Linked DNA regions of Homo sapiens: region 1 is linked to region 2. The links come from fine-mapping of genetic effects on gene expression. A gene starts in region 2. The other region holds a variant in brackets. All regions are shown on one strand. Distances are from middle to middle.

Evidence for each region.
Region 1: its variant is fine-mapped to the expression of LSM11 in lymphoblastoid cells (GTEx, PIP 0.96).

Annotation. Positions count from the first base shown.
Region 1 is chr5:158,552,125-158,560,462 of GRCh38, reverse strand. No RefSeq gene overlaps it. Among named protein-coding and RNA genes, the nearest start is that of LINC02227, 150 kb to the right of the region's middle. RefSeq lists enhancers at 145-194, 205-374. The variant G/A (reference allele first, on the strand shown) is at 3,755.
Region 2 is chr5:157,739,267-157,747,604 of GRCh38, reverse strand. It overlaps LSM11 (LSM11, U7 small nuclear RNA associated), which reads right to left and starts at 3,893. Exons shown (of 4, transcript NM_173491.4): 1 at 3,407-3,893. The coding sequence starts at 3,854. It overlaps THG1L (tRNA-histidine guanylyltransferase 1 like), which reads right to left. Exons shown (of 6, transcript NM_017872.5): 6 at 6,156-8,284. The coding sequence ends at 8,123. RefSeq lists an enhancer at 3,030-3,530 and a silencer at 3,550-4,109.

The DNA.
Region 1 (8,338 bases), 810 kb before region 2:
AGAGTGCCCTGAGGCTCAAACACTGTGGTTTTGAAAGTCAATACGCCTGTCGATAACAAGACTCACTGCCTCTCCAGGGACCGCCCACAGTGGTGTTGCTGAGTTTTGCAAGCCCTGCACAGAGAAGCTTCGTGGTGGTGGGAAGTGCTGTCCAAAAGAGGGGCTGTCTTACTGTCAGGCCAGAGCATCTGTGGCCTCCACAGCAAATGGGGATTTGAGCACGAGGCAAGCCAGACAGCCCCTGCCAACTCTTACACTGATGCAGTGGCTGGAAACACCTCCTCTCAACTTTTAGAGCGTTTTCACATCTTGCATGCTGGACAGTGAGTGGACCTACTGGACCAAAACTGCAAAGAAGAGAACATAAAATGGCTGCGACTTTCCCATAATGGTTTTCCCATAATGTAAAACCAAACAGACCTGGTTTTGAATCATGGCTCTGCCATTTCCATATTCTGTGATGATAGGCAAGTCCCTTAATTTCTCAACTTTTCCTTCTATAAGAAAGCAGCTTAACCAGCTACTTGGGAGGTTGAGGCAGGAGGATCGCTTGAACCCGGGAGGCAAAAGTTGCAGTGAGCCGAGATTGCACCGCTGCGCTCCAGCAAGCAGCCTGGGCAACAGAGCAGAGCAAGACTCTGTCTAAAAAAAAAAAAAGCAGAAGGCAGCTCTGGTGCCGGAATGCCTAGGTTCAAATTCAGGCTCTGGTACATCCTGTATATTCTCATATTCTCAGATAATTTACTCTCTTCTTTACGTGTAAAATGAAAGTGAGAATGAAATGAAATTTTAAAAATATATGAAGTTTTTCAAGTAGTAGCAAGCACTAAATAAATGTTAGCTGCTGTGTTTGGCGGGATGGGTTCCATGTAATCCTCCAATGTAAAATAAACCTTGGCATCTCAGTGGATTAGGACCATAAACATTTATTTCTCACTCATGCAGATGGAGAAATTTCTTCTATTTCAGGAGACTCGGAGACCTGGGATCTTTTCTTCTTCTGACATCACTATGTCAATCAACCCACAGCAGTTGGTTCCAGTTCATCACAGCAGAGAAAGAGATGGGGAAGGGGGTACCATGGCTCTTTTCTCTCTTGGCAATTCTTTTCATAGTCCATCAGCCACAGCAAGTTCAGGAACCCAAAGCCTACTGCACAGGAAACGGCCTTTATGGTAAATTAGGCTAACTGCCGAAATCACACTGCTGTAAAAGCATTAAATGGCAATGTGCATGGCATGCTTACACTGTGGCTGGCACATGGTTAGTGCCTGTTGTCTCTTGTGAGAGTACTACTTTTGATTCGGTGCCCGTCTGACATGATTCAATGCAATTCTGACTTGGATCAAACCACTGGTTGTTCCACACCACAGACTGTGGTGGGTCCCAGGTTCTCTTAGTAGTTAACGTTTGTCCCTCACCTTTATCAACCTTTCCCTACCTTTCTGTGCCCCATTTTCCTTTTCCAGTGCCTTCAGGTGGATCCACAACTCCTTGATGCTCCATTCTCTGGTGTTCCATCAAATGCCTGTTTCAAGGTTACATGATCATTTTTGATGTTCAAGTACTACTTTCATAGTATCTAGTGTGATGCTGCACTGATTCATTCAGGAAGCCTTAACCCGGTGCCTGCTTTGTGCCAGGACTGGAACCAGGCATTCACACTCACCGTCACCCTGGAGGCCAGTCAGTCTTATTGGCCTTAATTTTGGATATCAAGTGGAGGCTCAGAGAGGTTAAGAGACTGCCTCAAGTCACACAGCCTGGAAGAGGTGAGGTTGACTCAACACAGGGTGTCTCCCCATCCAGAGGCCTTTCCATTCTCCTTGGGAGGCCTCTGCAGTTGACTTTTGTTTGTTCTCTGGAAGTCATTACACATTTTGGCCTTTTCTAAGCCTTATTTATGCCTCTTTCCTTCAAAGGCTTAAACCTGAAAATTGATTGATTCAAGCTAAATCCTTGCAGAAGACAATGGCTTAACCTCTTATTTCTGTCTGGGATTTTTATGGCTCTTTAAAGAGGCACTGTCTCAGCCCAGGGTCTGCTGACTACTATGGTGGGTGTCAAGCATTCAGCCGGGCATGGTAGATGCCATTTGGAGGCAGGGGTAGATATTCGGAAGTGTCCCCAAATCATAGCACATAAGTAACAGATTTCTATTACAATAAAAAGGCTGACCTTTCCAGCCTCAGTGTCAGTGTCCAAAAAGTGAAGATTCAAATTGAGTTCACACCCAAAAAAGTATCACATGGATTCCCTCACACAAAAATTATTTTGTATCCTTTGTAGCTACAATTCACTGAATGCAGATTTCTATGCCAGGTATTCTAGAAATAATTGGGGTCTTTAATCCTTACAACCAGCATGTGATGTCCAGACTATTTATCTCCATTTTCCCAAGCAAGTGAGCACACTGAGGCTCAGAGAGGTTAAAGTGACTGGTTCAAGCTACACAGCAAATGTTAGAGTTGGAATTTGACCTAATTCCAAAATTCATCACTTTCTGTACTACCATATAACAACAGGATGCTATGAAAGGGAACTGACGTTAAAAGTATCCAAGGGGTGGGTTGCTTTCTCACGGAGTTTTTCATGGGCCTGGCATATCAATATGGCACCTCAGAGGCTGATGGAGAGACTGGGATGGCTAAAGCTAGCCAGGCAGGATTGTAGGGTCCCAATCTTCTTCTACCAGAGAAACTACTTCTGTACTTTCTGTAGTAGATTTGCACATAAATATTTTGTTTTAAAAATGTATTCTACTACATAACACAGAGAAAAAGAAGGTTAGAAACAAAAGAGAGAGAGAAATAAAAACTATAGTTTTAGTATCATGGCCTCGATTTTATGAACTAGACATTAAGGCCCAGGGAGTGAACAGATTCATCTGATCATATGAAGAGTTATAGGTGACAGACTGTGGTTTGGAGCAGGGCTTGGCAAACCTTTTCTGTAAAGGGCAAGATGGTAAATATTTTAGGCTTTGTGGACTTTGCAGGCTCTGTCACGACTACTCAACTCTGCCATTGTGGTAAGGAAACAGCCACAGACAATACGTAAAAAAAGAAACATGGTTGTATTCCAACAACTTTTATTTATAAAACAGGTTGAAGGCTGGATTTGACCCATGGGTGATAATTTGTGGAACTCTAGTTTGGAACAAAGGATCCTTGACTCTTTATTTGGCACTTTTTCTACAAAAGCAAAGCTGCCTCCTTAAGATAGATGAATTGTAAAGCCCTGTTATTTTCTTAATGTTAAGGGAAAATGAAAGATCAAAGTTGGAAAGCCAAGAGGGTTTTATTAAACAAAGCACAGGTAAACAAGAAGGAAGGCATTAGACATGTTAGTGTGGTTGGGGCTATAGCTCCTGGGATGAAGGATGAAGGGGAGGCATAAATAAGTGACTTGAAGAAAGGGCCCTGCCCTGATGAAGATATTGATATGCCTTGACCTAAGGTGTGTCACTAAAATTCAATCCTCTGCACCAAGGACTAAAATAAATTCATATATTTTGGAACTAATGAGGCATGATGGTTACACAACATTGTGAATGTACTAAATGCTACTGAATTGTACACTTTAAAGGCATTAATTTAATGTTATATGAATTTCACCTTAATAAAAAATTAAAAATATATATTAATAATTAAATTAAGCAATAAAGTTGGAAATGAAATGGTAAGGTTCTATCTCAGTGATCTTTCATCTTGCATCTTGCTTCAGGTCCTGGAACTTCTGAAAGTTACATTGA[G/A]TGGTTGAGTGAGTTGTCTTCACTGCCAGCTGGGAGCATGGTATGATTTTTTTCATGCTTTAGCCCATCAAAAGCCACATGGGCTGATTCTTGATTCCTAGATTTTTTTGGGCCTCAGTTTCCTTACCAGTAAAATGCATGTCATTGTTTGTACCATTGAGGATTGATGTGATCACTAAATGAGATTCTGATATAAACACTGTATTAATTACCTTGAACTGCTATAACAAAATACCATAGACTGGGTGATTTAAGCAGCATTTATTTCTCATGGTTCTAGAGGCTGGAAAGTTCAAGATAAAGCTGCTGTCAGATTTGGTTCCTGGTGAGAGTCTGCTTTCCGGCTGTAGATACCTGCGTTCCAGCTGTGTGCTCACATGGTCTTTCTTCAGTGCATGCACATCGGGGAGAGAGATCTCTGTCTTCCTCTTCCTATAAGAGCACTGATCCTTGCATGAAAGTCCCACCATAATGACTTAATGTTAACCATCTTACTTCCCAAAGGCTCCACTTCCAAGTACAATCATATTGGGGGTTAGGTCTTCAATATATAAATTTGGCAGGGGACATAAACATTCAGCCCATACAGTTAACATCTAGGAAGTGTTCATAAGTGTAGCCTTTACTCTCTTTATTTCTGAGAAGCCTAGGGTGTTTATTCCTTTACTTATTCATTCATCACTTACTTAGCTTCTATTATGTTCCAGGCAGCATAACTATGCTCATTTTCTATTACTGTATAACAAACTACCCTCGAAATTTAATAACTTAAAACAACAGACATTTATTATCCCACAATTCCTATGGGTCATGAATTCAAGGAATTAGCTGGATGGTTTTGCCTTAGGATCCCTAAAGAGGTTGCCATTAATATGTGGACTCTGGCTGCAGTCATCTGAAAGCTTGACTGGGGCTGATGGAACTACTTCCAAGATGGTTCATTCACATGGCTATTGGCAAAAGATCTTAGCTTCTTGCCAAATGGGGCTCTCTATACAGTGTCAGTATGAATTAACCACTGGTTTCCCCTAAAGCAAGGAGAGAGAGAGACAGAGAGAGAGAGAGAGAGAGAGAGAGAGAGAGAGAAAACCTAGTCTCCAAGCTCCTATTTTATTTGTCCATCACTGAGACAAGTTTGCACCCAGGGGAAGGTATACATAAAAGCATGAATGCCAGGAGGTGGAATCCTTGGAGGGCATTTTGAAGACTGGCTGACACAGTGCCTTAGTAAGAGTTTTGGGGATATAGCCATGAGCTAAAGGGCCATCTAACTTATAGTCTAAGAGGAGAGACAGACATATATAAAATCATTATGTACCTAAATACATACCAACCAACTAGGCTAAGACAATGAAGAAAAGGTACAGTATGTATGAGAGACATTTAGCAGGAGACCTTAGGAGGAAGTGGAAGGGACAGGGATGCATTTGTGAGGAAGTTACATTTCAGTTGAAACTCAAAGCATGAGTGGTAGTTAACATTAGTTAAAATTATGGTGGTTGCCTCAACATGTTAAACATAGTTTCCTTATCACCTAGCAGTTCTATCTTTAGGTATAAACCCAAGATAAATAAACACATACATCCATACAAAAGCTTGTACATGAATGCCCATAGCGGCATTGTTCATAATAGTCAAAAAATGAAAGTAACTCAAATGTCCATCAACTTGTGAATGGATAAACTAAATGTGGTATATCCATACAATAGGATATTACGTGATGACTAAGAAAAAAACACTGATCCACGGTACAACATGGATGAACCTTGAAAACATTATGATAAGTAAAAGAAGTCATAAACAAAATACGACATATTGGATAATCCTATTTGTTTGAATGTCTGCAATAGGAGACAGAAGAGAGATGCAAAGTAGATTAATGATTTCCTAGGGTTGAGGGAAAATGGAAAGTGAAAGCTTATAGGTAAAAGGGTTTTTTAAAGGGTGATAAAAACGTTTTGAAATAGATGTAATGATGCTTGCACCACTCTATGAATATGCTTGAAACCACTGAATAGTCCACTTTAAGTGGGTGAATTGTGTGTATGTGAATTTTTTTCTTAATAATGAGGTTATAAAAGAGGATGGCTGGAAAAGCTTTGCAGCAGAAGGAACAACTTGAAGTGGAAGAGAATATGGTGTGCAGGAGAAATGGAAAGAAAGTCAATGTGTCTGCAGCACAGAGTAGAGGAGAGAAGTAGTGTTACATGAGGTGGAAACCAGACCCTGCAGGCTTTAGTGACCCAATCAAGGAAGCTGCTCTTAATCGTGAGGGCTATGAGAAGCCACTGAAGGTTTTTAAGCATGAATTTGCCAGATCATATTTGAGGTTTTCAAATTTAATATCATAAATGCCCTATAAAATAAAGCTAATATTTATATCATGAGGTGATTAACGGAGCAGGCAGAATAGTGAAAATCGTATTTTTTATCATTTTCCCTAGAGGAGTGCAGACACTGGAGTTTTGAGATTGTGCTTGAACCGTTAATCGTTAGAAGCAGCATACTTGGTTCACATGCTTTTCATCCACCCTCTGGTGTCCTACATGACTTCATATTGCTCAATGAGGGGACAGGCTAGATGTGGCCACCCTCAGGTGCTGGCCCCATGTTCTCATGTTGCACAGTTTTTGGGATTCTGGGCTTCACCGAGCTCTTTATCCTTGTCCAGATGGCAGAGCAGAGGAAATATCTGGTAAAATGTTAATTCCACCTCATTTAATGCAGCTTACATAGGTGTGGTGTAGTCGAGGCCTCTACAGGAAAAGCTGATTTCAAGTTCTGGCACAAGGATTAGCTGATTCACAAAAGATGTGAGTCTCCGTTTCTTCCCTGCACATCTGTCCTGTCTGCTTTTAATTTGGAAGCACCAGTTTTAATTTAGCGGCAGGACTGTAAACTCCATTTCTGTGAATACAGAATGACATACTTTGTGGAACGGGGGCCTCTGGCCAAGATCTGACTCCTAAGTAATTGATGGCTAGTGACTGGCTGAGAAATGCTCAAATGCAAACACTTCCCATGGCAAAAACCCTGTCGTATCAGCTGGATTACAAACGAGCCTTGCTGGGCTGCTGCCCATTGAAATATAGGCCATGTCTTTAACCACAGTCTCCAAAACCTGGAGGGAGCCTCCAGTTCATTCTAAACATCGATGATCTTTCCAGTCCACAGGTTTCCTTTGTCCTCAGACTTTGTCTGGAGCCTGTGGCCCAATGCACAGATTTCTTCATATTTGGAAGCCAACCATATCGGGAAGGAGGCTTCAGCATTAAGGGTTGTTTTGTTCTGGTGAAAAGGACACTCTTTTCATCACATTTAAAAACCAATTTTTTAAAATCTCACTCATATCCAATATTTTGTGTGTGTGAGAGAGAAAACACAGGCCTAAAGTTACATCACCCTTGTGGTTTGAGAAATCTTTTTCACAATATGTAGACTGTTTTTGGGGCTGGGATTTTTGGAGAAGGGGGAAAAATAGTGGGGCAAGAAGGACAGAGATATGAGACAGAAAATTAAGTCTTTCTGTAAACAAGAAAGAATGGATAAGCAAAGGGAATAAAATGGACAAAACTTCCATGAGTCTGACATCTTCTAGATACAGAGATAGCCGATACAAAATCCCATGATGCCTTTAAAAAATTAATTTAAGTCCACCAGTCTTACATCACCATTGAATCCCTATCACCTGTCATGGTGCCTAGCATATAGTAAGTTTTGATACATATTTTTAAATACATGAATGAGGAAATAAGTAATTATTGCATGCTTACCGTATGCCCAGCACTGCTGTACTCAAAGGGCATGGGAAACATAACTAATGCCACAGGGAAACTTATGGGGAGTCCAGTGTAGAATAATGGTAGGAGGCACAGAGCCCGGAGTTAGCTAGTCCTGGATCTGGGTTTGAGCCCTGCCTCTAACACTTACCAGCTGTGTGGCCTGGGGGAAAATTATTTAAGCTAATTGTTAGTTTCCTTTAATTGGAATGTGGACAATAATAGGACCTATTTCATGTGGTTGTTGGGAGGATTACTTGTGGTAAAGGTGTAAGGTGCTTGTGCTAGAACATGGGAAATACTCAGTAATGGTAACTATTATATAATTTGGAAATGGTACATGGCCGCCTTATGCAATAGTTCTTGCTGTGAGTCTCTCCAAAATGTCCTTGAACTCCCACCTTCGTTTTACATACAATTGCTTGCCAATTCCTTTCTCAAGACATAGTGAGGCCAACATTATTCACTCCCGTTGGTCTTGCTTAAGTGTGCAGAGTCCTTTTGTCTTGGAACTAATGTGGATTTTGTAAAAAATCATTTCTCCATGGAGGACAGTGGCACTCAGCTCCAGTACTAACAAGAGAACATCCCAGATGGTTTGCAAAGTATTTTAGTTTTTGCCAAACATGTTTCCTGCTAATTTGAAATTCCCTCTGTGTTTTTAAGTGAAATGTAATCCACGTGTTCCTGGTCAAGTAACTACTGGGGAAGGAAGTGGGAAAGAATCAGGGAGAATCCCAACATCAGCTCTTAAAGAGATGGCAGCATCTGAGGTGTGTGTGCTGCATGTGTTCTAAGGGATCTC
Region 2 (8,338 bases):
ACAGGACTCAAACAAATTTTCAATCATGGTATCACGTCAGAGGCCCAATAAATCAGGTTTGTTTTGAAATCCTTCTCAGCAGGATGTGTGCGAGTAAAAGGACTGTGTAGGCTCCCTGCAGGAAAACTGAATTTGGAACTGGAGACAAGCCATTCACCTAGACAATGGTCTAGGAGCCAAACCCTGCATGTCATATGCATTTTGGATTGACCACACACACTTGTTCACACCGGCACAGGCTGCACACCAACACACCTGTAGCTAAAACAAAGTAATGATAACACTTTTTCTTACAGCTTTATAATGTCAAGACGTGAGCTTGAACACACCAGTTCATTTCACAGTGACAGATATACCTAGAAAAAGCTTGCTTGAAGCACAATTATAAACCAGAACCACCGTGGGCTAGGTATGGTGCTGCGATACTAAGGAGAAATATAGACACTAGAATTATGTGGAAAAGAGGATAATGCTCTTTAGTCTTGTCTTACCATCTCTATAGGCATGTCAATATTAAAAAGGAGGAAAAGCAATTGCATTCCACTTGCAAGTACAGCTTGTGTGTGAGTTCTTTGTTGGTATCAGTGATGGCTTAGGCTTAATGATGACGAAAAACCTTTCCTCCTATGCTTTTTTTCTTCTTTAGTATTCCCAGTATTGCAACAGCCTCCTATACTTTTATTATTACTTTTTTTTGAGACCTCGTATCACCTCTGTAGAGGTCTCTATGATGTCCCTATGATCTCGGCTCACTGCAGCTTCCACTTACAGGGTTCAAGCGATTCTCGTGCCTCATCCTCCTGAACAGCTGGAACTAGAGGCAGATGCTGCCATGCCCAACTAATTTTTGTATTTTTAGTAGAGACAGGGTTTCACCACGTTGGCCAGGCTGGTCTTGAACTCCTGGCCTCAAGTGTTCTGCCCGCCTCGGCCTCCCAAAGTGCTGGGATTACAGGTGTGAGCCACTGTGCCTGGCTACTTTTAAAATTTTATTACTGCAAGGAAAAGAATACAACTGCTCCACAAGGGAATTCAAAGAGATTCTATGACAGAGATACAAAGTGAAATATTTTACAGTTAAAACACCATTACACTTAATTTTGCACTCCTTGTTTTTTCATAAACATTCCACACTGTCCTCTCTGTGAATTTGGATGGGTAACTTGGATCTGAATTGATGAAATACATCATTTTAAAGTCAGCGACAAAATGTAGCTCCTCATGTATTCTTCATTATGTTTCACTGATGATATGACCTAACAAAGCTTCTTCTTGCTGTTACAGCCTGATGGAACTTACATTTTATGTGAATATTTTGCAAAGGATTATGCATTCTCAAATGCATAGGCATTTTTTTCCAGAAAGCATTTGTATATGTCCACAAATAGTATTATCTTACTGGTATCTATATTTTGATTTTCCTGAGCAACTGTATCCAATCAGAGTTTAGAGTAGGCATATATTTTTTTAAATTAAAACTGTGGCATACATATAAAACATACCTAGTTCTTTTTTTTCCCCCCTTCCAACTTTTGTTTTTGGATCAGGAGGTACACGAAAGGTTTGTTGCAGGTGTAAATCGTGTGTCACTGGGGTTTGGTGCACAAATTATTTTGTCACCCAGGTAGTGATCACAGTACCCAATAGGTAGTTTTGTGATTCTCACCCTCCTCCCACCCTTCACCCTCAAGTAGGAACTCTTTCTTGAATGAATCCAATCCTCACCCATGTTTCTGTTGTTTTCTTGCTTTCTGAAGGTCATCAACTCTGTGCGACGTCAATGCCTTTCTCTCATGTACACTCAACTGTCTGCAGTGCCATGGTGAAAATTTTCAGTATGTAGGGCATATTCTCTGAGATCTTGATTCCAGGGATATATACTTAATCATAAGAAGTTGACAAAGCTGGTCTTCACACACTGTCATACCATTACAGTAAAGTGCTCTATAGGGAAAGCTAAAACCACCCACCACATAGCAATACACAGGAATATTCCTTTCCCTTGACAATCTTGGTAGCAAAGCAATAACTGGTAAAATAGAAATAAATGTTGCAATGAGACTTGGAGTGCATTTCAACTACCTAATGGTGGCAAATTGCATAGGCAAATTAAGGTCCCCCAAACTGCTCTCATTTTGGGAACAAGCATACTGTCTTTGTGTTACAGCCAGGCAAGCAGGCCGGGGTAAATCCTAGCTTGGGCAGGGATGCTGTGGCATGGTAAGACATCCAACGAAGGCACACGGAACAGCACAGAGCGTTTCAGGATGTTCTCTCTTAATAAACAAATTTCTAGGAATGAAGCAAAACAGTCCCTTGCTTGGCACACCTCTCCATCCAAAAGACAGTGACTTAATAAGGTAACAATTTAATTATCAGGATACAGATGCTTTGAATGGCTAAGTAGGTCATTGTGTTCACAGGGCAGATGTCAGAACTGCTTGCCAGATGACAAAAGAGATAACCTTAGGCTGTTTTTATTCCATTTATACAAGACCTAACTCACACATTAGAGCCTCTGCTGTTTACAGCTTTACTCTAAGGATCTATGAGGAGGCTCCAAGAAATTCCCTTGTGCCATTTACACCTTTAGAACTTAAAATAACCTGCACATATGGTAATATGAGCCTGACAGACACAGTCCTGCACCCAGCCAGGCAGAGTGGCTGTAAAACAGCGTCTGTGTTTTAGTGGCATTCTGTGCCTGCTGCATTTCAGCACTTGTGACTTAGTAATGTGAACATATGTGTATCAAGACTCTGCAGCCCTTCTGCTTATCGCACTCGAGAAGGAGCTGTCAATGTACAGGGGTTATGGGATTATGCGCCTGTGCTATCTGAACAAATCTCCCCACACTCCATCCGATCATCCTCAAATCCCACTGACCAAATACTCTCCTTCCCCTAATATTGGCTGTGCGCTCCCCCACGTCTCCCGTTTTCCGCCCCACCTTACCTCTCACTGTGGTCTCTAAGACCTCTCATCACCTCTGTAGACGTCCCTATGATGTCCCCCAAACTCTGTAGCCCCGCCACCTCTCCAGGTCCTCCATCAATCCTGTAGACCCTCTCGGCAGGCTCATCACCTCTGTGACCCTTCCATGGGCCCCGATTACCGCTGAAGACCTTTCCCACGGCTTCTTATGACCACTACAGCCTTACCACTCTCCCTCTGTTGCTCCTACAGCCCCTTTTCTTACTCAGGGTGACCCTCCCCACGCCCTCATTACCCACATTACTCAAGCAGATCCACCCCATAGTCACTGATGATCCCCGCAAATTTTCACCAAGGCGCTCCCGCAATACGTGCAGACCCGCGCCCGGCCACCGCCGCCCCGCAGACGCCCCCTCGGCAGCCAGCTTCCGGACGGCGGCTGCCCCGCTTCCCGCCCGGCCCGCGGACTCACAGGGCATTCGCGTGAGCACGTTGCGTGGCGCCTTCCTGCTCCGACCCGGACCCCTCCGGCCCGCTCCTGCGGCCCCGTCCCCTTCCTCTTTGGCCACCATGAGACGGCGGAGGCGCTGGATGCGCTCGGGGTCCGGGGCGGGCGCGTCCGGGCGGCGACGAGTCCTGCCCGAGGGCCCGGGTGCGGCGGGAACCCCAGAGCCCGCGGCCGCGCCCCGAGCCCGCCCGCGCCCGCGCCCGCCGCCCCGGACTCCGGTCCTGAGGAAGCTCTCGTACTCCGCCACGTTGTTGAAGCAGGGGGCATTGGGGTAGGGAATGGGAGGCAGGCGGGGCGCGTACAGGGCCAGCAGCGGGTCGAAGCTGTCAGAGCTGACATCCAGCCGCGGGCTGGGCGGGCGCGCGGGGCTCCCGGCGCCAGCCGACCTCGCCCCCCGCTCCCGCTCCTCCATGTTTGAAAGGCCCGCAAGCCGAGGCCGATGGGAAGAAGGAACGAAGCCGCCAGAGGGCGGCACTGCGCAGCCGCGGCGCGGGGTTGCACTGCGCCGAAGCGGCCGCGGGAGGGCAGCACCTGTCCTCGTTCCACCCGGGCCGGGGGGCGTGGTACGCGGCTCCGACCAGCCCGCGCCTCGCACCGCCTCCTCCCATAGCTGACAGGTTAACGCTGTCGACTGCTGCTTGACCTGCTCCAGCGCAGTTTCCCCGTCTGTATCATTATCACTTAGGGTGTTTGTTAATACTCTGGGTTCCCCGGGAATGAGCTCGGGATCGCATCCTAGCTTGAGCTGGCAGGAAGCGTCTGGAGGAAGGCAATGAATGTCTCAGTTTGCTTCCATGCTGAGTACTACTGATAGGGTGGGAAGAATAGCCTATCTGGGCTCAAAGTATTTAGCGTGTTTCTCGTCTGAAATATGATATAAATAGCACCTACCTTATAGAACTGACCTCAGGATGGAGAGATACTGCCTACAGAGCTCATAATAGATGCATGTCAGCCAATACTGGGTGTCTGTCCTCCATTTCCTATACCCTGTGCATAAACAAATTTGTGCTTAGTATCAAAGAAAATTCATTATATCACTGTCTTTCTAAGCATTGCTAACCAATTGGAAGAAACGAAGATCCAGCTCTTGGAGGAAACTATGGAAAATTCCCAAGACCTGATCATACCACTTGCTACTTTATAGTCTCAGTTCGGCAAAATATTTTTTGGTTGATTTTAAAATGACAGTCTACTCTTCGCGGAAGGCCCAGATATAACCTTCTCATCCAGCAGAGCCAAAATGTTTCCACTCACCTACAGGCCACACATCACTTGCCCGTCACCACATTCTCAAACTGCCATCAACTAGTATTCTCTGTACTAGTTGCTTTGTGTACATTTCAGTTTCCTTAAGACTTAGGAAGTCCAAGAGAATACTGGAGAGTACCTTAGAGAGCAAGATGAAAATTAATATACAACTCTGAAATATACCTTGGGATGAATGCATACTACAGCGAAGACAAAACCATCAAGCAGGCCGGGCGCGGTGGCTCACGCCTGTAATCCCAGCACTTTGGGAGGCCGAGGCGGGTGGATCACGAGGTCAGGAGTTCAAGACCAGCCTGGCCAAGATGGTGAAACCCCGTCTCTACTAAAAATACAAAAAATTAGCCGGGCGTGGTGGCACGCGCCTGTAATCCCAGCTACGCTGGAGGCTGAGGCAGAGAATTGCTTAAACCTGGAGGGGCGGAGGTTGCAGTGAGCTGAGATCGCGCCACTGCACTCCAGCTGGGGTGACAGAGGGAGACTCCATCTCAAAAAAAAAAAAAAAACAAAAACCATCAAACAGTGGCTTCTAATTGGTAGCAGTACAGGTTTCTTTATGGCACAGGTTTTGAACCCAGCTTATCACTTTGTTCAAAACCCCCTGCCTGAATAAAAAACTCAAAGCTGCAGAATTGCTGGCAATTCAACAAATGAGCGCTCATCCCCACATCATATGGCAAAACTGAGTGATAGCCTTTATAGTGTCATTTAAGACCCACAGAAAGCACGTTTCTCTGGGTGGTTTTCTTGAAAATTTGTACTCTAATGCCTACTTGTATTTTGATATAAAATGCTGTCAACTTACCATTAAGTTAAAATTGCCAATCAACAGCTACATTATCTTACTTCCTTCCCACCCAGCCTATCACAGTATACCGAGGGCCTTGCTGCCGAAGCTGCTGTATATTGACAACCACACATATCAGAAGCCTTTGGGGCTAAAAATCAGATTGCTGGCTGGGCGTGATGGCTCACACCTGTAATCCCAGCACTTTGGGAGGCTGAAGCGGGCGGATCACGAGGTCAGCAGTTCGAGACCAGCCTGGCCAATGTAGTGAAAACCCCCGTCTCTACTAAAAATACAAAAATTAAGCCAGGCATGGTGGTGCGTGTCTGTAGTCCCAGCTACTCAGGAGGCTAAGGCAGGAGAATCACTTGAACCTGAGAGGCAGAGGTTGCAGTGAGCTGACAGAGCGAGACTCCATCTCAAAAAAAAAAAAAAAAAAAAAAAAGATTGTTGAGCTTCAAACCTTTCTGGGGGCTGGGAGGAGCCAAAAATGTGCATTTTAAACAAGCATTCCAAGTAATTTTTTTTTTTGCATCCAGAAGTTTGTGAACCACTGCTATGATGAGGGCATGTGTATCCTAGGCTACCCAGAGATATACACAAAAGTTAGATTTCATATAGTCTATTTGTCTAAGAAAAATAAATGAAAAAGCAGGCCAAAGGAGTTGACATCTTTATTTCTTTCCTCAAAGAGATTTTAGCAATTACCAAACAAGAACCGTATCTCCTCTTTCTGTGGAGTGAGAACAGGAAGGGAAAAAATGGCATCGACAGATGGGTTGTCAATTAGTGAGGGATGAGGCCAGCCATCACCCTTTCAAAAATACATTTTCTTCTTAGATGTAAATTCTGCAGTGCAAGACGAGGGACTGGGACACGGGCTGTCTCTTAATTTTTTTTTTTAAGGCAGTTTTGCTCTGTCACCCAGGCTGGAGTGCAGTGGCATGATTTCAGCTCACTGCAACCTCCACCTACCAGGTTCAAGCAATTATCCTGCTTCAGCCTTCTGAGTAGCTGGTATTGCAGGCACACGCCACCACGCCCAGCTAATTTTTCTATTTTTAGTACAGACTGGGTTTTGCCATGTTGGACGTGCTGGTCTTGGACTCCTGGCCTGAAGTGATCTACCTGCCTCAGCCCCCCAAAGTGCTGGGATTACAGGTGTGAGCCACCATGCCCAGCCATGTCTTTTTTTTTTTTTTTTGAGATGTAGTTTCGCTCGTTGCCCAGGCTGGAGTGCAATGGCACAATCTTGGCTCACCGCAACTTCCGCCTCCTGAGTTCAAATGATTCTCCTGCCTCAACCTCCCAAGTAGCTGGAATCACAGGCATGCACCACCATGCCCAGCTAATTTTTTGTATTTTTAGTAGAGACGGGGGTTTCTCCACGTTGGTCACGCTGGTCTCGAACTCCCGACCTCAGGTGATCTGCCTGCCTGGGCCTCCCAAGGTGCTGGGATTACAGACGTGAGCCACCGCACCCAGCCTCTTAATTCTTAATGGGGCCAAATAATCCTTTCCCTCCGAAATATAAAACCAGGACAAGAGAAAAATGTGAGTTCTCTCACCACCTATTCCCACTACCTTCCCCCTTCAGAGGCCAAGTTTGGCTGCATGTGATGATCCCTGCTGCTCTGTGCTGTTCCTCACCCATCTCCACTGACCCAACAGAAGGTGGCGCTATTAATATTATGCCTCCTCTGACACCTGCTACCTGTCGATTAGCAGAGGATGTTTACCCCTCTGCTCTTGAAATCAAATGTCATTTGTCTGATTACATAGAGGCTATGTGAGAATGTTTTTCAAGAAGTCTAATAGGAAAGTGACTTTTAAAACTGAAATGTCTTGAGTACATGGGGTAAATGTTTCTTCATCCTCATTCACGCATTCTTGTTTCTTTCTCTCATATATACACATAATTCTGTTTCTTCTTAGAAAGAGGTAAATGGCCTTGGCAACTATGCCCCTGGCTAGAAGATGATGATCATGCTGACAACTCCATTAAATCAATCCACAGAATGTGTACGCAAGGACACTGAAGCCACTACTCATTTGTTCAGCCAAAGTTGCCAACTTAGAGACTGGCACAAAGCCCCGAGTTTTCCCTGCAATTCCTGAATTCAGAGGCATCATGCAGGCATTAACCCATATTTATCTTGAGGTCTGCCAAAGACGAATGCAAGTAGATGGGTGGCAGAGGTGAGATTTTCAAAGTCAGTGGGTTTTCTGGTTAAGAACAGGTGGGCGAGAGTTTGGGCTCCTCTTCTCTCATAGATGAAAATAACTGACAGGTTTTTACAAGATTTATGTCACAATCTAAAAATGATTCATTCTCCAAGGCATGGAATAGTTCTTGCTTTATAAAAATAGTACTGCGATTAAAAAAAAAGCACTTCTGCCAAAGGAACCATGTTCCAACACCGCAAACAAGGTGTTCTGCTTAAACAGAGTAAGATACACCACCCCCATCCATCCCTTCCTTCCCTGTTCCCCTCCCAACTTGAGTTGTGTCATTCGCACCAGTGTCCTGGGTGGTAGGGATGCTACAGCCACCTAAGGCAAGGAGCCCTGGGAGGTGGGAGGGCTTGCATGGTTAAGCACACCAGAACTGAAGCGCAAAAGGGTCAGCTGTCTTCATCTAGAATCTCTGGATGTTCCTTCCAGAAAGCATCCCCGATGATATCGCAGTGCAAGGGCACTGGCTTTGTCCTGGTCCGGGTCACTGCCATCTTTTTTCCTTCCATTTCTGTTGGCAGCTTAATTTCTTTTGTCATCACTTCATCCACCTACAGGTAAAAATAAAGTAGTGACATTGTTAAGTCAGGAGTGGGTTTGGGAGA